2 separate regions of the Homo sapiens genome follow, and region 2 is linked to region 1. The links come from fine-mapping of genetic effects on gene expression. A gene starts in region 1. The other region holds a variant in brackets. All regions are shown on one strand. Distances are from middle to middle.

Region 1 (11,151 bases):
GATCTCCTGATCTCACGATCCGCCTGCCTCGGCCTCCCAAAGTGCTGGGATTACAGCCGTGAGCCATCGCGCCTGGCTGCTTTAAATTTTTATAAAGTTGCTCCAAACATTGCTAAGACACATGTAAAAAGCAATTAAATAATTAAAAAAAACCCCAAAACAACAACAAACTTACATGATAACTTCTTGTCCATAAATCTGAAAAAGGAAAAGGGTAAAGATTATATAACCAATTAAAAAAATTTAAGCATAAACAAGTAAATAGGTATAGTTAAGATAATTTGCTAAAATTTATACAATGGGAATAATGAAATCTAAAATAGTAAAAATAATGTATTGCTGTAAAGAGTGAGGGAGTAGGGCGAGGTAGCTCACGCCTGTAATCCCAGCACTTTAGGGGGCTGAGGCGGGTGGACTGCTTGAGCTCAGGAGTTGAGACCAGCCTGGGCAACATGGTGAAACCCCATCTCTACCAAAAATACAAAAATTAGCTGGGGGTGGTGGCACATGCCTATGGTTCCAGCTACTTGGGAGGCTGAGGTCGGAGAATCACTGGAGCCTGCCACGTTGAGGCTGCAGTGAGCCATGATTGCGCCACTGCACTCCAGCTTGGGCAATAGAGCGAAACTGTCTCAGGGGAAAAAAAGAGTGGGGGCGTAAAGGGTTACCTAAATTAGACATTCTAGGAAGCAAAGTAATTTGGGAAGAGGAAAGGCAATAAAAATGAAACATATTTAGACTATATTAATTTACATTAAGTAGAGTATACTAATGTGAATTACATTCTTATTGTTCAATACTACGTTGTTTCATTGACCTAAATTTCTTTCTTTTTTTTTTTTTTTTTAAGAGATGGGAGTCTCATTATGTTGCCCAGGCTGGTCCTGAATTCCTGGCCTCGAAAAATATACTCCCCCTCAGCCTCCCAAAGTGCCGCTGGGATTACACAGGCATGAGCTACCACATCTGGTCTCATTGACCTAATTTTCAATGACTGGATTTTATAGTCACAAGAGAAAAACAAAGACTTGCCTATGTTTGGTTATTTCCAAAACTAAGTTGTAAAGACAGCAAACAGTAATCAAATCATATCCAATTCAATAGGTATTTTATATTTGAAATAAGTAGTGTTCTTTTATTTAATATTAAAGCATCAAGCATAAATGTTCAGGGTAGTCCTCAACATTTAAGTATATTTTAGAATAATAAATGCACATTTGAAACTTCAAACGATATGAATTAAAAAAAAATTCCATTTTAGTGGAATACGAGATTAAGCCATGCAGTCAAATCAGTTTTTAATTTCTTCCATATAGGCCAGAAAACATAAAATTTCATTCAATTTTAAAAATTTCATTCAAATTTTAAAATATAAAAAAATGAAAAAAAGATGTTTAGTATATGGGCCACGAAGTGGGGCACTTATTCAATTTTAATGTATAGGATTATCATGGGAAAATGTAAATATAAAACAAGGAGCATGACTGAAGGAGGGAGTAGATACATTTACAAGTAAAAATATATTTATGGGCTGGGCGCGGTGGCTCATGCTTGTAATCCCAGCACTTTGGGAGGCCAAGGCGGGCGGATCACCTGAGGTCGGGAGTTCGAGACCAGCCTGATCAACATGGAGAAAACCCGTCTCTACTAAAAAAAAAAAAAAAAAAAAAAAAAAAAAAAAAAAAAATTAGTCGGGTGTGTTGGTGCATGCTTGTAATCCCAGCTACTCGGGAGGCTGAGGCAGGAGAATCGCTTGAACCCGGGAGGCACAGGTTGCGGTGAGCCAAGATCGCGCCACTGCACTCCAGCCTGGGCAATAAGAGTGAAACTCCATCTCAAAACACACACACACACACACACACACACACACACACACACACACACATATATGAAGTAAACTATATTTTAATAAGATACATAAAACGTATCAAATATAACACACAAGATCTTATACAATCTTTACAACGACTTTGCAATTATGGTCTATCATTTCCACCGTTTTTACAGATGGAGAACTAGGCTTGGAAAAGCTAAAGCAATTTTTCAAAGTCACACAGCAAGTGAGAGCAAACACAAATAGTTCAGTGTGACTGGAGAACGGAATACCTGAGTATTAGCAGCTAGAAGGTTTGGTGCTTGAATGCTGGGTTAAGTACAGACTCGATTTTGCATACTGTGATAAATTATTAAAGCAGTCACTGGCAAGACTACCGTGGCAGCAAATTTTAAGAAGTGGAAGGAAGAATTCAGTTAAGCCAGTGTATCTCAACTTCTATACTACTGACATTTGGGACCAGTTAATTTTGTATTGTTGGGGGCAGTCGAATAAGCAGTAGGATGTTTAGCAGCACCCTGGTGTCTACTCACTAGAAGCCGGTAGCACCAGATTCCCTACTCCCCATTTAAGAACACCTGAGTTATGCTACACCAGAAGGAGGGCATAATGGTGTAAAAGAAGATGCTATCTGTGAGAAAGCAGAGGAAGAAAAAATTTTTAAGTCATTTTGGCGGCAGATCTGACCGGATTTCACAATTCATGAAACCTACGAGGAAGAGAAAGGTATTAAAACTAGCTTCCTTCTCTGAAATTTTCAAAAACTATGTTATGAATCAGAAAGAAAATCTTAGATTACAAGTAGAGAATGGTCTTTTTGTTAAAAAAAAAAAAATCACCATTTCACCAGTCCCTGATGAATCCAGAGGATACTTACATCACCAAAAATAACTTTCAGATAAAAAGAGTAATTTTCACAATAATTTCTGAGTAACTTCTATTTTTTTTTTTTTTTTTGAGACGGAGTCTCGCTCTGTTGCCCAGGCTGGAGTGCAGTGGCGCGATCTCGGCTCACTGCAAGCTCCGCCTCCCGGGTTCACGCCATTCTCCTGCCTCAGCCTCCCGAGTAGCTGGGACTACAAGCGCCCGCCACCAAGCCCACGTAATTTTTTGTATTTTTATAGACACGGGGTTTCACCGTTTTAGCCATGATGATCTCCATCTCCTGACCTCGTGATCCGCCCGCCTCGGCCTCCCAAAGTGCTGGGATTACAGGCGTGAGCCACCGCGTTGGGCTTATGTTTTAATAATTAATTCCTTAACAGACCTAACTAAAATATACATAGAAGTAGTTTTCATACAAAAGATGGCTTTGATACAAATGGACCTTTAAATGCAAAAATATTATTATTTTTTGAAACAGAGTTTCGGTCTTGTTACCCAGGCTGGAGGGCAATGGCGCGATCTTGACTCACTGCAACCTCCGCTTCCCGGGTTCAAGCGATTCTCCTGCCTCAACCTCCGGAATAGCTGAGACTACAGGCGCACACCACCTGCCTGGCTAATTTTTTGTATTTTTAGTAGAGACGGGGGTTTCACCATGTTGGCCAGGCTGGTCTCGAACTCCTGACCTCAGGTGATCCTCCCGCCTCAGCCTCCCAAAGTGCTGGGATTACAGGCGTGAGCCACTGTGCCCGGCCGCAAAATTATTAAATAGGAACTTTACCTTTTGTCTGACTTCCATGGGCCTGGTAATAAATGAACTAACTATACACAAAGCCAACCACATGCTACGCCAGAAAAAACTGATCCCTGTAAAAATTTTGCATCCTTTGTGCAATCCAACTAATACATGTAGAATTCCAGCATCAGGAAGTATAAGCAAAACAGAAACGTAGTCAGGAAACACATAACCTGTTAAGTCCACTCAAAAAGTATTTGAGGAATTCAAAGCTTTACGTTGAGTCCTACCTAAAGTAAGGCTCTCCTACTTAAAGTTGTTTGACTTTACTGGGTGTGTAGAAAAAACTTCAAAAAATTAGCCTTCTCTGACTAGAAAAAATTAATGTTCTTAAAAAAAAAGAAAAATGAATGTTCTTATATAGTTTCAACATCAGAGCAAGATAACACATGACATTCAAGCTTAACGTAAAAGAAGGCAAGAAAAAGGAATGAGGTTTCTAAGTAAAAGCTCAAACACCTACAAACACATTTGCTAAGACTAAAGTGGCTTTCGGATTCTGATGCCTCACGTAGTTTTAAAAACACTTCCTTCCCTTCCAGCCCCTCCTTAGTTCCTTCAGAGAATTTCCCCCTCTAGCCGTCTATCTAGAACATGATACTATTCGAGATGTTCAACAAAAGGTAGCACTGGAGATCTTCAAGGAACGAGGGACAGCGCCGGGTGACCAGGGGCCAGACCGCGGGACCTGGAGACTAGTCGGCCGGAAGGAGGTGCCGTGGCTGCCGGCTGTAACCACACCGACGCGCGAGCTCTGCGCGGGCTTCACGTCTCATGCGCGGGAGCCTGGCCGGGATCCCGGCGACCTCGGACCGGAAGAAGAAATGAAGTGAAGCGGCTCAAGACATTCGGCTAACGGAGAGGGAACCAAGGGACTCGCAGGACGCAAATAACTGACCACTTCGGTTTGGCTCTCACACATACTTACTTTTTCAACTCGGGAGGGTGAGCTTTGCTCATGGTGTATACTCCGCGGGCTCACAGATGCCTTGGAACGCAACGCACGGCTTTCCTCACGCTCCCGCTGTAGGCCCGGCGTCTTGCGTCTGGCGTCATCGACCTCGTTAGCCAATGGATTGTTGGCAGTTTTTACATTTCACCTCGCGATATCTCAGCGCCTCGGTCATCGTTGAGCTTCCGGTTATGTCCTCAGCGATTGGCCAGGACGGAGGGGTGCGTCCTCTAGGCACCTTTCTGAATTCCGTTTTCCTTGTACAAAATTGAGATAACGGGTATTCCACCGGTGGGTATCCCTGCTCTTTTTCTTTTCTTTTTGAGACGGAGTCTAGCTCTGTCGCCCAGGCTGGAGTGCAGTGGCGCGATCTCGGCTCACTGCAAGCTCCGCCTCCCGGCCTCACGCCATTCTCCTGCCTCAGCCACCCGAATAGCTGGGACTACAGGCGCCCGCCACCATGCCCGGCTAATTTTGTGTATTTTTTAGTAGAGACGGGGTTTCGCCGTGTTAGCCAGGATGGTCTCGATCTCCTGACCTCGTTATCCGCCCGCCTCGGCCTCCCAAAGTGCTAGGATTACAGGCGTGAGCTACCGCGCCCAGCCGGTTATCCCTGCTCTTGTCTATGGAACAGCCAAAATAAATAAAAATAAATAAATAAATAAAAAAAGCCGGGCGCCGTAAATCCCAGAACTTTGGATCTCTTGAGCCCAGGAGTTCGAGACCAGCCTGTGCAACATAGCGAGACCCCTTCTCTATTTAAAAAATAAAATTGAGATATTGAGATAACGGTCCCGTCTCTAGCTCCTGGGCAAACCCGGCCAATCCCGCATGTCTGTGGATCGTATCGCTTATTTTCTTCATATATACCAATATACCAAATGATAATGATCCCTGGAGGAATGGGCCTCTCTCTATATATGTATATTTTTTTGAGACGGAGTCTTGCTCTGTCGCCCAGGCTGGAGTGCAGTGGCGCGATCTCGGCTCACTGCAAGCTCTGCCTCCCGGGTTCACGCCATTCTCCTGCCTCAGCCTCCCGAGTAGCTGGGACAACAGGTGCCCGCCACCACGCCGGGCTGATTTTTTGTATTTTTAGTAGACACCGTATTTCACTGTGTTAGCCAGGATGGTCTTGATCTCCTGACCTCGTGATCCGCTGGCCTCGGCCTCCCAAAGTGCTGGGATTACAGGCGTGAGCCCCCGCTCCCGGCTGGGCCTCTATATTTTTTTGGCAGGTAACCCTACAGCATACTGTCAGACCAAGTAGGGTTCCCGTAACATGTAAATTAGCAGCCTCTGAACCATTGTAGAGTAAGGTGACTGGGTCTGTCTCCAAGAATTTGAATCTATTTCTGACTGAGGGGTCTTGCAAAAAAAATTTTTTTTGAGATGAGTTCTTGCTCTGTCGCCTAGGCTGGGGAGCATGGTGTGATCATGGCTCACTGCAACCTCGAACTCCTGGCCTCAAGCAATCCTTCCACCTCAGCCTCCTGAGTTGTTGAGACTACAGGCGCACGCCACTGCACCCAGCTAATTTTTTTTTGTAGAGACGAGGTCTTGCTTTGTTGCCCAGGCTGTTCTCAAATTCCTGGCCTCAAGAGATCTGCCTGCCTCCGGCTCCCAAAGTGCTGAGATTACAGGGGTTAGCCAGCATGCCTGGGAATTCTGAAATTTTTCAAACACTACCTCCAGAACTCACTGATGTGCTATTGCCCCTGTATATAAAATGTGAAGTGCAGCACACAAACATTTTCTAATATAAGGTGTTCTTTTTTCATGTCAAGATGTGTAAAAAGTGGTCTCGGACTTGTTCCCAGTTGTTACCCCAAAATTATAGAAGACTAAACCAAAATAGAATACCTTGTGTTTAAATAGGGGATAGTTCTCAAAAATTCAGTTAATTCCTGATATTCTGGAATGGCTCTATATAAATATCAATGATAGTAAAGACTTAAACTCATCACATATTTTGCACTCTCTTAGTACTCAAAATCCTAGACACTGAATTTTTTCTAGCAGGGTCATAGCTTTGTACCTTTACTACCACTTGCTATTAGTGTTTAGTTGAAGCTAGAGACCTGACATAGATAATGAATTTCTCTTTTTAGCCTCATAGACAGTTTCTTTTCTACATTAATGAACTTCAAGTCACAATGTCCTAGTCTCCTCTCAAAGTTTTTCCCATTTACAGTGAACCAGTTCTGCATCTGAACCATAACAACTAATTTCCACTCTTCTGGACATTTTAACTCATTTAACCTGTTAAAAGGAGAAGCATCCTGAGAAAGTTACATATTCACCACCCAGATATAAGGAAAGAAGACTCAATAGTGGGGAGAAAATTAAACCTTATTTATTTTTAAAGTCAAACCACTAGGAAAATATATCACAGCCTGGAAACAGCAAACGGACAGGCTATATTATAATTTCAAGTAATAAGTTGGTGAAAATTCAACGAAGTTGCTATCAAAACAATAAGGTGCCATGCTGGGGCAGGAACACTGCCAGCTGCACAAGCCCCAGGCAAAAATGGTATTTGGTAATGGGGGCTGTCTCTCCTTTGCTCTAAGGGAGTCAGCTCATCCTAGCCCAAGTTGCTTACTTTTTCTCCCTTGAATTTCCTGTTGCCAGGGGTTTGTCTCAATTGGGCTCTGTTAATTCAGGGGGCTAAGTAGGCAATGCTAGGTGTAGGCTTTCATTCCATATGTTCTAATAAAACCAGGTTTTCCCAAATCCAGTACTTCATTTACTCTGTTGTAATCAAGTAGCCAACTGCTCCTCTTTTACTGTTCATTCCTAGATACTAGTATATATCACAATCAAAACCCCCTTCTCTTCAAGGGGAAAGTGTTACTGCAAGATTGTCCTGTCATTTTGTTACACACAGCCTCAGGGGCCATCAGCCAGTAATTCTGCTTCCCATAATTAGTGTGTCATCACCTCTCATGTTTCTGCACAGTCTCCAGGCTGAAAGATGCAGCATGTAATAATTTTAAGAAATGTACATCCACATCTTGATGACCAGAAATGGGGATCCACAAGGAACATTTCAAAGTTCTTATCCAAACTAGTCTACCTCCCAGTTCCACATCTTAAAATCAACTTGTATGCCCTTGTATAAATTACCCCAAATCAAGAAAACAAAGACCCAGAAAACTTTCTTTCCCTTCTAAGTTAGTGACCTCATTGATTTTGTTTCACAGCTTATGGAAGATGGTGGGGTGACACTTTTGGTAAACAGGATGTTGGCAACAAAGAGAAAATATCTCTCCTCAGACTCCACCAACTCTAACCTGCCAGCCTGTTAGTACCTGTGTAGTAAGAAGAGTCTGGTACCTTGGAGGGCTCTGGCTTGTTACAGGGGAAAGCCTTACTGCCAGGACAAGCACTGGCCACAGGAAATAATAAGCTCTAAAACTCTCCTGTAATATCTCTGACTCGATTTAGCACCACTTTTTTCCATTTCATTTTTTAGGGACTGAAACATAAAATAACCAGTGTCCAGAGGCAAGTGACATATGCCTTACGCTTGTGGCCATCCTTCATTTCTTCATTCGTAAACTTTGCTTAAAAGACTAAAATTCCCAATTCCTTATAAAAAATATATTCTTGCCCTCAGCCCTGATGGCCACTGGCAAATACTTTTATTTTCCAATTGATAAGAGAGCCTCCTTCATCTTCTTGGTCATAGTTGGGATGAGGTGCATGTGGTCATCCACACACTTGGTCACACAACTGTCCAGCTGCTGCTTCACCTGAAGCTCCTTACTCCCAGCATCTATTGAATCTTTGGCTTTGTCGTTGCAATGCATGGTGCACCGGGCCAGGCGGTCCTGTGGCAAGAAGGAAGAACGTAGAAAAAGCTGAGAGTAAGGCCTCCATTTACTGCGTGCTCATTATGTGTTAGGCCCTGTGCTACAGGTTTAATATGTATTATCTTGGTCAATTAAAGGGACATGGTAGTGTGATTGGCCAAGTTTTTTTTTTTTTTTTTTTTTTTGAGCAGAGTCTCACTCTGTTGCCCAGGCTGGAGCGCTGCGCTGCAGTGGCACAATTATGGCTTACTGCAGCCTCAACGTCCCAGGCTCACGCTATCTTTCCACCTCTGCTCTCAAGTAGCTAGGACCACAGGCACACGCCACCACTCTTGGCTAATACTTTCTTAAAAATTATTTTTGTAGAGATGGGATCTCCCTATGTTGCCCAGGCTGGTCTTGAACTCCTGGGCTCAAGTGATCCTCCCTCCTTGGCTTCCCAAAGTGTTGGGATTAGAGGTGTGAGCCACTGTGTTTGGCTTTCCAAGACTGTCTTGACTCAAACAGAAGATGGCACCAGGAGGGCTCAAACTATTACTAGAAAGCAGGTGAATGACAGAATAAATTGGGCAGAACATTCTTCCAGGAAATGAGAGGTCCCTAGAGGTTATTGTAAGATGTACAAACATCTTGATTCTTTTTTTTTTTTTGAGACGGAGTTTCGCTCTTGTTGCCTAAGCTGGAGTGCAATGGCACAATCTCGGCTCACCACAACCTCCACCTCCCGGGTTCAAGTGATTCTCCTGCCTCAGCCTCCTGAGTAGCTAGGATTACAGGCATGCGCCACCATGCCTGGCTAACTTTTTTTGTATTTTTAGTAGAGACGGGGTTTCTCCATGTTGGTCAGGCTGGTCTCAAACTCCCAACCTCAGGTGATCCACCCGCGTCAGCCTCCCAAAGTGCTGGGATTATAGGTGTGAGCCACTGATTCTTTAAAGTCTGTTCTTTCTACAGGAAAACATTCAATTCAACAAATATTTATTGAGCATCTACTATGTGCCAGGCACTCTTTTAATGTTAGGGAATATAGCAATGAGTAAAACAAAGTTCTTACCCTTACAGAACTTACATTCCAGTGAGAGGAAAGAGACAAACAAAGTAAATGGAGATGTGGAGGAATTAGTTGGATATGTGAATGTGGAGTTTATCAGTGAGCTCTGGCCTACAGATATAAATGCAGGAGCTGTCAGCATAGAGATTATATTTACAGCTATGAGGCTAGAGGAGACTAGAGAAGTAGGCAGAAAGGAGAAAAGAAACAAGGACAGCCCCAGGCACTCTGATGCTCAGAGGCTGGAGTGGGGAAGAGAGAGCAAAGGAGGCCAAGGAAGGAGGCAGAAAACCAGGAGAGTGAGATGTCCTGGTGACCAACTGAATAAAGTGCTTTAAGAAGGAGAGGGATCCACTGTGTCAATGATGCAGACAGAGTAAGATGAAGACTGAGAAATGACCCCCGGATTCGGCCCCATGGGGGTGAGTGGCAGGAGTGGTTCTGGCCCAGTGAAGAGTGAAAGTCCACTTGGAGAGGACTAAAAAGATAATGCAAGGGAAGTTATAGAGCAATCCAAGAATCACATTTTCAAAGACCCCATCTATAAAATTAGCTGTCAAAAAGAACACAAAGAAACCCTTTGGGGTTCCATGATCTTGAAGAAGTTATTCCTTCATAATGGCAGTAACTTTGAAGCGTTTTGAATGGAAGAATGTAAAGATGTGTCACATTATGTATAAGTTTCCATGTGGATGGAACCTCAGGCTATGAAAGGCTGGCTTGGAAGTAGGCTTGCTTCCCCCAGGTTCCAGAAAAATATACTTAGAAGATGGGAGTAAAATGAAGTTGTGGATACTCTTTGCTCCAGAGAGGGAAACAGGGAGCTCTTTTGGTAACCTCAGAGGGGCTTGTGAGCCAGGAATCAGTGAGTCAACAGTAATAATGATTCACATAAATGACTGCTCCTTAGTGACAGAGGGGCTGCCCTCTGGGTATAGCAACTAGGGGCAGTCCTGGGTGGGTGTATAAGTCCACAAAATGGTGGAAGGGTGTTCCTCGAATCTGTACCTTTTCAAGGCTATCCTACCTTTCTAGAGATTCTGCTGTTTTAAAAATAATATATGTTTTAGGAAACTTTATTTTTTTATTTTTATTTTATTTATTTTTTGAGACGGAGTCTCGCTCTGTCACCCAGGCTGGAGTGCAGTGACGTGATCTTGGCTCACTGCAAGCTCTGCCTCCCGGATTCACGCCATTCTCCTGCCTCAGCTTCCCGAGTAGCTGGGACTACAGGCGCCCACCACCACACCTGGCCAATTTTTTGTATTTTTAGTAGAGACGGGGTTTCACTGTGTTAGCCAGGATGGTCTGGATCTCCTGACCTCGTGATCTGCCTGCCTCGGCCTCCCAAAGTGCTGGGATTACAGGTGTGAGCCACCGTGCCTGAACATTATTTATTTTTTTTTGAGACGGAGTTTCGCTCTTGTTGTCCAGGCTGGAGCGCAATGGCATGCGATCTTGGCTCACTGCAACCTGCGCCTTCCAGTTTCAAGCGATTCTCCTGCCTCAGCCTCCCGAGTAGCTGGGATTACAGGCACCTGCCACCATGCCCAGATAATTTCTGTATTTTTAGTAGAGATGGGGTTTCACCATGTTGGCCAGGACGGTCTCAAACTCCTGACCTCGTGATCCACCCGCCTCGGCCTCCCAAAATGTTGGGATTACAGGCGCGAGCTACGCGTCCAGCCAGGAAACTTTATACTACACAGTATACATTCTGTATTTGGTGGTTATGTCAAAAGGAACAAACAAACGCCTCCTCCCCAACAAACTGCATAAGGGCTCTTGGTCATGAACTCCCCTGGTAACTCCCCA
Region 2 (11,151 bases), 32 kb before region 1:
TGAGCTGAGATCGCACCACTGCACTCCAGACTGGGCAACAGAGCGAGACTCCGTCTCAAAAAAAAAAAAAAAAAGTAAGTGTTCAGAGTAATACTTTTCTACATTATACTGAGAGAAATTATAAATTATAAAGTATATCAAATTATATTATTTTACTAATTTTACTTTTATGTAATAAAATGCAATATATTTAAAAATTGTTAAAAAAATAAAATTTATGTCCTGCTTTTAGGCAAATGGGGAAGGCGGAGAACTTTCCACCCACGTATCTACATCGTATCTACATCTTCTCAATTGTCTTCGGCTTGAAATAATCCTTAGGCTAAAGAGGCGTATTTTGGGGTGGCACATTCTGGTGTCCTTACAGGTACACTACTTTTATTCATGTCTGTTACTACTATTACACCCCCTTCACCTTGGGCCACCCCATCCTCAGTCTCCCTCATTTTTCTTTACAGTTAGCACCATTTACCCATTCACGGAGAACCTTACAGTTCTCGCAACAGGGTGATCACTCAGTAAGTACTGTTGTCCCTTTGGTCTGTTTCTGGCAGCGATTAGCTGTGCGCATTCTTTGAGAGGAGCGACGGAGGGAACAGAAGAGGGTACTAGTGAAGAACTAAGGTGCTTCACCCAAATAGATAGGGAAGGAGGAGGAGAGCTGAGGCGAGCCTCAGCTTCTGCCTTTTTTTTTTTTTTTTTTTTTTTGAGACGGAGTCTGGCTCTGTCTCCCAGGCTGGAGTGCAGTGGCGCAATCTCGGCTCACTGCAAGCTCCGCCTCCCGGGTTCACGCCATTCTCCTGCCTCAGCCTCCCGAGTAGCTGGGACTACAGGCGCCCGCCACTATGCCGAGCTAAATTTTTGTATTTTTAGTAGAGACGGGGTTTCACCGTGTTAGCCAGGATGGTCTCGATCTCCTGACCTCATGATCCACCCACCTCGGCCTCCCAAAGTGCTGGGATTACAGGCTTGAGCCACCGCGCCCGGCCAGCTTCTGCCTTCGATGTCTTCTGAAGGAGGGTGGGCTTCGAGGCGGCAGGATGTGCTTAGGGCACTGAGTGGCCCAGAGTGGGGAGCTCCTGCAGGGTTGAGAGGACCGGCGGGGCGAGGTCGGGGCGGGGCTCGCAGGACCTGGGCGGGGCTCGCAGGGGCTGGGCGGCCTGGGGGCGGGGCTGGGCGGAGCGCGCAGCCGCGCAGCGGTGGGAGGACTGCGGGGCTCTTGAGGCCAGCTGCAGAGCTTGTGGAGGCCATGGGGCGCGTCGTCGCGGAGCTCGTCTCCTCGCTGCTGGGGTTGTGGCTGTTGCTGTGCAGCTGCGGATGCCCCGAGGGCGCCGAGCTGCGTGCTCCGCCAGATAAAATCGGTAGGCGAGAAGGGGGCGGCGCGGGAAGGTGCTGGAGCGCGCCCCGCGCCGGGCGGCCGCTGCGCAGTGCGCCCAGATCCCACAGCCGCGACGCAGTCCAGCGGTGCAGGCCGAGCCAGCTGCGCAGGTCGCGCTTTCCCCCATTCACACTTCAGGGCGGCTTTCAGCTCTGGTCGGAATAGGACTGTGCATTCCCAGGCGTGGAGAGGTGCCCACTTGAGGAATGGGCGTGGACGGGGACAGGGGCGGGCGGGCAGGCAGGCGCCTAGCGTACCTGTAGCCCCTGTCTCTTAGGTGTGGGGCTCCGGGGAGGCCTAGGTTTCTCTATCTTCCCGTTGAACACTGACCGTGAAGACTCCAGTGTTCTGGCTTGACCTGGGGCGCCCGGCCAGATTAACAGGCTCACGCAGGCACAGCACAGGGAGGAGTGCAAACAAGTTGACCCTGCCTGCTTCCCTTGGGAGGCTGAACCGCCTTCCCCCAGCTCCGCTTTGCTGAGGTCGGCCTGCTCTCAGAGGCCCTTGGCTTGCACAGTTTCTCCGCCTAGGACTAACACAGCTGCAGAAAGAATCTGTTCTCTTTCCACTGTCAAGAGCTCCAGTGTCAGGAGCCTTGGCTCTTTGCTTCCTGTCTCCCTCCCGCCCCCCTTTAAAGTTGTGTTCTTCGGTATCATTAACCTATCTACATTGAATCTAGACACAACAAAGCTAGGCATAAATGGCCGTCACTTTATTAAAAATGCGTGCTGGAAAGGTCCACCTCTAATGTGCCCGTGAGTTGGGCATCTGGAAGGGTGTGCAGGCCCCTTGGTTCCTCCATAAAGACCTGTGAGAATCTTTGGGCATCTGGAAAAAAAATCGAGTTAATGTCAATATGTTAATTAATCTACTGCTTTTGTCTGGGAACAGTGTCTGTCCAGATTCAGGGAGTTAGACCTTCGCTGCAGGTGTCACTCTTCCCCCACCAAATTGTTGGTAATAGCTTTGAGTAACAACCTCTGCTATTGATGGTCTTTCAAAAACAAAACAACTCACAGAGCTGGTAAAAGGGGAAAATATAATCTTCTGTTTTTTTCCCTCATAGCGATTATTGGAGCCGGAATTGGTGGCACTTCAGCAGCCTATTACCTGCGGCAGAAATTTGGGAAAGATGTGAAGATAGACCTGTTTGAAAGAGAAGAGGTCGGGGGCCGCCTGGCTACCATGATGGTGCAGGGGCAAGAATACGAGGCAGGAGGTTCTGTCATCCATCCTTTAAATCTGCACATGAAACGTTTTGTCAAAGACCTGGGTATGTAATTTTGGTCTTGGAGCTCACCAGATTACTGTGTGACATCCCCGGATATTTTTATCAGATGGAGAACTGAAATTTCTGCCTTGTTAATTGCCTTACAGAGACGTTGGTAAAACTGTTTTCCTCACTTTCTTGTTAGTTGGTACTGCCTGAGTTAGGAGCAGTTCTGCTGTAATGGGACACTAGTTGTCTGTATCTTCAGTTATCTGGAATTACAGCCATGGGGTGGGGGTGGGAATGGCTGCCATTGTCTTTTTTTTTCTTTTGAGGAGTTTCGCTCTTGTCGCTCAGGCTGGAGTGCAATGGTGCGATCTTGGCTCACTGCAACCTCTGCCTCCCGGGTTCAAGCGATTCTCCTGCCTTAGCCTCCTGAGTAGCTGGGATTACAGGTGCCTGCCACCACGCCCAGCTAATTTTTGTATTTTCAGTAGTGACGGGGTTTCACCATGTTGGCCAGCTGGTCTTGAACTCCTGACCTCAGGTGATCCGCCTGCCTTGGCCTTCCAAAGTGCTGGGATTACAGGGGTGAGCCACCGTGCCCGGCCTCTGTTGTCTGTTCTTAAAATTCTGGGTTTGTGTTAAAGAATCAGAGAAGGTTTGGAGATAGTCATCTCATTGTGATCATTTTGCAGCTGAGTAAATGAGACCCAGAGACTTGAATTGTCTGGCTCAAAGTCACTCACATATGGCCATGGCCAGGGTCAGTGGCTCATGCCTGTAATCCCAGCACTTTGGGAGGCCGAGGCAGAGGATCACTTGAGCCCAGGAGTTAGAAACCAGTCTGGGCAACATAGTGAGATCCTGTCTTTACTAAAAATAAAAAAGTTAGCCTGGTGTGATGGCACAAACCTGTAGTCCCAGCTTCTTGGGAGGCAGAGGCAGGAGGATCCCTTGAGCCTGGGAGATAGAAGCTGCAGTGAGCCTTGCATGCCACTGCACTCCAGCCTGGGCAACAAAGTGAGACCCTATCAAAACAAACCACCACCAACAAAACAAACTCCGTCACACAGCTGTGGATGCAGACACGTGCCTAGAACTTGGGATGTGCAACTGCTGCCCTGACAGCAGAGGAGCTGGATAGGTCATGGGGAAAGTCTGACAGGCCTCTGGAGGCCCTTTCGGCAGGGAGTATTTTGTAACTTTGGCCTCCTTCCAGTTATCTGAAATATCCAGTTTTGCAAAATAGGATTCTCACAGGAATGGAAGTGCCTCAGCTGCCTTCCACATCCTCTGTAGATGCTGCCTCTGCTTCCGTTTCCTCCACGAGGGCGAAGGTATACCCAGAACAAATTATGCCACGAAGATGCATGTCTGACATCTTTGTTTTTAAATTGAATTCAGTTGGTACTCTGGCTTTTTTCCTTTGACTATCCAGTTTTTTTAGACTTTTAGTCTAAAAATAGCCAGGTAAAAATATATCTACTTTTGATATATTAATATTTACATGATCATCTGACCCATCGCCTAGCAAATCTGCTTTTGGACAGTGTAGTGAAAGTATAGTGTTTCACACTGTTCCAAAGATAGAGCTCCTTTATGTGTCTCCTGAGAACTGAGGGAAGCCCCAAATTCACTCAGATTACGTTCTTTCATTTGATCAGCATAGACACCACTGACTTAGCTGTGCTTTATGTTTTTGCAGGTCTCTCTGCTGTTCAGGCCTCTGGTGGCCTACTGGGGATATATAATGGAGAGACTCTGGTATTTGAGGAGAGCAACTGGTTCATAATTAACGTGATTAAATTAGTTTGGCGCTATGGATTTCAAT[C/T]CCTCCGTATGCACATGTGGGTAGAGGACGTGTTAGACAAGTTCATGAGGTAATTTTTTTTCCTTCCATTTAACCTAAGATCTTTTAATTTAGGTTAAATTAAACTTGATGAACTTTAGGAATTATGATTTCTTGTAAGCATTTTCTACCTCACAGCAAGGCCTGTTTATAACATTGTTAGGCAAAATGTTTTGTAGAAACTATGCAGACTATTTGCTTGGATATTGAAAGGTTGGTTTATTTTTGCTTCTGAAGTGTATTTTGCAAATGCTTCTTTAGTGTTGCCAGATACTGTTAGATGCCTTGAATTCTTATGACAACTTACTCTGGTAGGTACTGTTTTTAGCTTCTTTAAACAGATGCAGAAGGTGGCGGTGTAGAGAGGTTTTAAAAGGCAAGTTCACCCACATAGTAAGTGGTATAGCTGGAGTTGCCACCCAGGCAGTCTGGCCTTTGAGTCTTCACTCTTAATCTCTATGCTGTGCTGGTGTTGTGTATATGAATTGAGATAATGTGTACAAGAGCTTGTAGAAAGGATCAGAAAACTTAAATGGCCTTTAATAGTGACATGTTTTCAGTGAACCAGCAGCCTGAAGTAGAGTAAAAGTTCCATATTCCAAGAATTTACATTCTAGCACTGTTTTGGGTAGTGAGAATTCAGGTGCCTCTTTTTCGTCCTTATGCTTTTCTATATTTAAACAGTTTTTTTAATGCGTGTGAATATGTATCACTTTGGTAATCAGGAAGACTAACATAAAATAGCCAGTCTAATTTTGAAAGGTACAATCTGTATTTTTAAAGCTGTTGGCATGTTCTAGTTTTTTAGTTTTTTTGTTTTTTTGTTTTTGAGATGGAGTTTCGCTTGTTGCCTAGGCTGGAGTGCAATGGTTCGATATTGGCTCACTGCAACCTCTGCCTCTTGGGTTCAAGCGATACTCCTGCCTCAGGCTCCCGAGTAGCTGGGATTACAGATGCCTGCCACCACGCCCAGCTAATTTTTGTATTTTTAGTAGAGATGGGGTTTCACCCTCTTGGCCAGGCTGGTCTCGAACTCCTGACCTCAGGTGATCCACCTGCCTCGGCCTCCCAAAGTGCTGGGATTACAGGTGTGAGCTACCGAGCTTGGCCGGCATGTGCTAATTTTTTTTTTTTTTTTTTTTGAGATGGAGTTTTGCTCTGTCGCCCGGGCTGGAGTGCAGTGGCACCATCTCGGCTCACTGCAACCTCTGCCTCCCTGGTTCAAGCGATTCTCCTGCCTCAGACTCCCGAATAGCTGGGATTACAGGTGCCTGCCACTGTGCCTGGCTAATTTTTTGTATTTTTAGTAGAGACGGGGTTTCACTGTGTTAGCCAGGATGGTCTTGATCTCCTGACCTCGTGATCCGCCTGCCTCAGCCTCCCAAAGTGTTGGGATTGCAGGCATGAGCCACTGTGCCCGGCTAGCACATGCTAATTTTTATGCTGCTTTACAGTTTTAGGTACTGGAGGCCAGGATCGCATCATTACACTCCAGCCTGGGTGACAGAACAAGATTCCATCTTGAGGGGAAAAACAAAACAAAACAAAACATGTCATATGACCAGGTATTGAACAGGACAAATATGAGTTAAGCAGGGCTGGGCACAGTGGCTTATGCCTCTAATCCCAGAATTTTGGGAGGCTGAGGCTGGTGGATCACCTGAGGTCAGGAGTTTGAGACCAGCCTGACCAACATGGTAAAACCCTGTCTCTACAAAAAATATAAAAATTTAGCCGGCGTGGTGGTGCATGCCTGTAATCCCAGCTACTTGTGAGCCTGAGGCAGGAGAATCACTTGAACCTGGGAGGCAGAGGTTGCAGTGAGCCACGATCGTGCCATTACACTCTAGCCTGGGGGACAGAGCCAGACTGTCTAAAAAAAAAAAAAAGAAAGCTAAGCAGGATATGCTCTGGTTTCTATAACTCATGGTAGTTTGGGGTTTCTTTCTTTCTCAACATCATTCTTAGGTCAGTTCCTTAAATGCCTTTCCCGTGGGTACCTTAAGTCCATCTACAGTGCATAATGTTTTTAAGTAGCCATTCATTCATTCACCCAATATTGAATACCTGTTAGGTGCTAGGCATTGTTCTATGTTGAGAGTATAGGACCTACAACATGTCCTTGTCCTCAAAGAATATATATTCTAGTGGAGAGACAGGCAATACACAACCAAGGAAATATATAGAATTTGCGTAGAGACGGCCAGTCACTTTATAGAAGGTGGGTGGCATGGTGCTGCATACTCAGCAGGCAGATCAAGTTCTGATGGCATCAGCCCTGCTTGTGTGTATTGTTTTTCTTTTCTTTTCTTTTTTTTTTTTGAGATAGAGTCTCGTTTTGTCGCCCAGGCTGGAGTGCAGTGGCGGGATCTCGGCTTACTGCAACATCTGCCTCCCAGGTTCAAGTGATTCTCCTGCCTCAGCCTCCTGAGTAGCTGGGACTACAGGCACATGCCACCATGCCTGGTTAATTTTTTGTATTTTTAGTAGAGATGTGGTTTCACCGTGTTAGCCAGGCTGGTCTCAAACTCCTGACCTTGTGATCTGCCTGTCTCGGCTTCCCAAAGTGTTGGGATTATAGGCGTGAGCCACTGTGCCCGGCCCTCTTTTTTTTTTTTTTTTTTTTGATACAGGTCTCACTCTGTCACCCAGGCTGGAGTGCAGTGGTGTGATCATGGCTCACTGCAGCCTGGACCTCCTGGGCTCAGGGGATCTGCCTACCTTAGCCTCTGTGTAGCTGGGACTACAGGCACGTGCCATCAGATCTGGCTAATTTTTTGTATTTTTTTTGTAGAGATGAGGTTTGGCCATGTTGCCCAGGCTGGTCTTGAATTCCTGGGCTCGAGTGTTCCACTCACCTGGGCCTCCCAAAGTGTTGGGATTACGGTTGTGAGCTCCTGTTCCCAGCCTTGTTTTTTTTTTTATCTGTGGCTTGCTTGAGATGTAGAGAATTGCCCTTTGAGAAATTAAGAAATTACTTTTTTTTTTTTGAGATGAGTTTCACTCTGTCACCCAGGCTGGAGTGCAGTGGTGCAATCTCGGCTCACTGCAACCTCTGCCTCCTGAGTCCAAGCGATTCTCCTGCCTCAGCCTCCTGAGTAGCTGGGATTACAGGCATGTGCCACCATACCCAGATAATTTTTTTATTTTTAGTAGAGATGGGGTTTTACCATGTTGGCTAGGCTGGTCTCAAACTCCTGGCCTTAATTGATCTGCCCGCCTTGGCCTCCTAAAGTGCTGCGATTACAGGCATGAGCCACCGCACCTGGCCTAAGAAATCACTTTTGAAGTGAATTCAAGGTATTACAGAACTGGGAAAAAGAACCAGTGAGGGGATACATAGGTTATACTGTTTTTGACTTTAAAAAATAATTTACGGGCCGGGCGCGGTGGCACACGCCTGTAATCCCAGCACTTTGGGAGGCCAAGGCAGATAGATCTTGAGGTCAGGAGTTCGAGACCAGCCTGGCCAACATGGTGAAACTCCGCCTTGCTAAAAATACAAAAATTAGCTGGGTGTGGAGGCGCAGCTAATGCCAGCTACTTGGGAGGCTGAGGCAGTAGAATCGCTTGAACCCAGGAAGCGGAGGTTGTGGTGAGCCAAGATCAAAGTATACACAAGGTGGAGAAAGACCTATGTAACAGTAGTAAACCATGACACTCGAAAGAGGGCTCAAGCTTGTGGTAGGCAATACTCGAAAACAGTGCATTCATTCATTCTCTGCTGTTGGAGGTACTTGAGTGGAAATCCTGCAGCCCCTGACATCAGCACTAGCTAGCTTAATTTCCACTTCTGCACATACATTTATGTAGTTGTTCTGGTTGGATGCCATTCTTAACTAATTTTTTTTTTTTTTTTTTTTTTGAGACCAAGTCTTGCTCCGTCACCCAGGCTGGAGTACGGTGGTGCAATCACAGCTCACTGCAGCTTTGACCTCCTGGTCTCAAGTCATCTTCCAGCCTCAGCTGGGACTATAGGCATGTGCCATCATGCTTGGCTAATTTTTTAAATTTTTGTAGAGACAGGGTGTTGCCATGTTGCCCAAGCTGATCTTGAACTCCTGGGCTCAAGTGATCCTCCCACCTTGGCCTCCCAAAGTGTTGGGATTACAGGCGTGAGCCACCGCGCTCAGCCGGATGCCATTCTTTACTCCCAAGTCCAACCTCTTATCTCACTTTTTCAGCAAAGCATTTCCTTAATGCTTCAATCAACATTCATCTTTCTTTTCAAACATCCCTTATTATACGGTGCACACTGTGTGCTTGTGTTCTATGCTACGCACAGTAACTAGAATGTAGTAGATGTTTACTCAGATGTTTGTGGAATTTAAATCTCTGGTCTGCTGATGGCTTCCTGTTGAGATATCTTGGCTTGTAGACTAGGTTAAAGCTTATTCTTCTCTCTCAAGTTAGTGCATTTCTGGGGACTTGTAAGATCCTTAACACTTCTTGATCTGAGACTGATAGACTCACAGGGAAAGGCTTTATAAACACCCTTTCTTCCTTCCAGTTACTCCTACCAAATATTTTGAGTCAATTTTTGTTCTTTCATTTCCCAAACCCACTCTATCTTGAATCCCATCAGCCTTTAAAATACATCCAGTATTCCACTACTTCTCTCCAGGATTACTGCTACCACTTTGTTCCAAGTCACCACCACTGTCTCTTGTCTGGATTGCTAGAGTAGCCTCCTATTATAGGCTGAATAATCCTCTCCCCTGCTGTCTGCCACAAGATGTCCATGTCTTAATTCCTGGAACCTGTGAATGTGTTACCTTTTGAGGTAAAAGAGACGTTGCAGATATGGTTAAGGATGGGTAGATTATTCTGGATTATCTAGGTGGGCCCAATATAATCACAAGGGTCCTTAGAGAGGCAGGAGGATCAGGGTAGGTAGTAGGAGATGTGATGATGGAAGGAAGAGATTGGAGTGATGCTAGGAAGGGGTGTGCGTCCACGAGCCAAGGAATGCAGGTGGCCTGTAGAGGCTGGAAAAGACAGTCTTCCCTCAGAGCTTCTAGAAGGAACCAGCCTTGTGCACACCTTGATTTTAGCCCGGAGAGACTGACTTTGGTCTTCTAATTTACAGAACCGTAAGATTATAACTTTTTTTTTTTTTGTTAGTATTTATTAATCATTCTTGGGTGTTCTTCGGAGAGGGGGATTTGGCAGGGTCATAGGACAATAGTGGAGGGAAGGTCAGCGGATAAACATGTGAACAAAGGTCTCTGGTTTTCCTAGGCAGAGGGCCCTGCCGCCTTCCGCAGTGTTTGTGTCCCTGGGTACTTGAGATTAGGGAGTGGTGATGACTCTTAACGAGTATGCTGCCTTCAAGCATCTGTTTAACAAAGCACATCTTGCACCGCCCTTAATCCATTTAACCCTTAGTGGACACAGCACATGTTTCAGAGAGCATGGGGTTGGGGGTAAGGTCATAGATAAACAGCATTCCAAGGCAGAAGAATTTCTCTTACTACAGAACAAAATGGAGTCTCCTATGTCCACCTCTTTCTACACAGACACAGTAACAATCCGATCTCTCCTTCCTTTCCCCACATTTCCCCCACTTCTATTCGACAAAACTGCCATCGTCATCATGGCCCGTTCTCAATGAGCTATTGGGTACACCTCCCAGACGGGGTGGCGGCTGGGCAGAGGGGCTCCTCACTTCCCAGACAGGGCGGCTGCTGGGCGGAGGGGCTCCTCACTTCTCAGAGAGGGCGGCTGGTCAGAGAGGCTCCTCACCTCCCAGACGGGATGGCGGCGGGGCAGAGACACTCCTCAGTTCCCAGACGGCGTCGCGGCCGGGCAGAGGCGCTCTTCACATCTCAGACGGGGCGGCGGGGCAGAGGCGCTCCCCACATCCCAGACGATGGGCAGCCGGGCAGAGACGCTCCTCACTTCCTAGACGGGATGACGGCCGGGAAGAGGCGCTCCTCACTTCCCAGACTGGGCGGCCGGGCAGAGGAGTTCCTCACATCCCAGACGATGGGCGGCCAGGCAAAGACACTCCTCACTTCCTAGACGGGGTGGCGGCTGGGCAGAGGCTGCAATCTCAGCACTTTTGGGAGGTCAAGGCAGGCGGCTGGGAGGTGGAGGTTGTAGCGAGCCGAGATCACGCCACTGCACTCCAGCCTGGGCAACATTGAGCACTGAGTGAGCGACACTCCGTCTGCAATCCTGGCACCTCGGGAGGCCGAGGCTGGCAGATCACTCATGGTCAGGAACTGGAGACCAGCCCGGCCAACACGGTGAAACCCCGTCTCCACCAAAAAATACGAAAACCAGTCAGGCGTGGCGGCGCGCGCCTGCAATCCCAGGCACTTGGCAGGCTGAAGCAGGAGAATCAGGCAGGGAGGTTGCAGTGAGTCGAGATGGCAGCAGTACAGTCCAGCCTTGGCTCGGCATCAGAGGGAGACCGTGGAGAGGGAGAGGGGGAGGGGGAGGGGGAGAGGGAGAGCTGTTTTTTGTTTTGAGACAGAGTCTTGCTCTGTCACCCAGGCTGGAGTGCAGTGGCACAATCTTGGCTCACTGCAGCCTCCGCCTCCTGGGTTCAAGCAGTTCTCTGCCTCAGCCTCCCGAGTAGTTGGGATCACAGGCGCCCACCACCATGCCCGGCTAATTTTTGTATTTTTAGTAGAGATGGGGTTTCACCATCTTGGCCAGGCAGGTCTTGCACTCCTGACCTCGTGATCCACCCGCCTCAGCCTC

Alleles and levels. Alleles are on the strand shown, and positions count from the first base shown. SD is a standard deviation of normalised expression in the study named.
With allele T in place of C in region 2, the expression in nucleus accumbens of the gene that starts at base 4,566 in region 1 is higher (small effect, 0.28 SD a copy in GTEx).

What was found.
Region 2: its variant is fine-mapped to the expression of SNRPG in nucleus accumbens (GTEx, PIP 0.95).

What each region holds. Positions count from the first base shown.
Region 1 is chr2:70,289,175-70,300,325 of GRCh38, forward strand. SNRPG (small nuclear ribonucleoprotein polypeptide G) reads right to left here and starts at 4,566. Exons shown (of 4, transcript NM_003096.4): 1 at 4,444-4,566; 2 at 176-198. The coding sequence starts at 4,475. FAM136A (family with sequence similarity 136 member A) reads right to left here. Exons shown (of 3, transcript NM_001329752.2): 3 at 6,802-8,303. The coding sequence ends at 8,115. LOC124906023 (a long non-coding RNA gene) reads left to right here and starts at 4,728. Exons shown (of 2, transcript XR_007086880.1): 1 at 4,728-4,758; 2 at 5,884-6,840. RefSeq lists enhancers at 3,324-4,231, 4,248-4,727.
Region 2 is chr2:70,256,916-70,268,066 of GRCh38, forward strand. PCYOX1 (prenylcysteine oxidase 1) reads left to right here and starts at 1,222. Exons shown (of 6, transcript NM_016297.4): 1 at 1,222-1,361; 2 at 2,445-2,651; 3 at 4,297-4,471. The coding sequence starts at 1,250. RefSeq lists silencers at 1,078-1,207, 1,478-1,587. The variant C/T (reference allele first, on the strand shown) is at 4,423.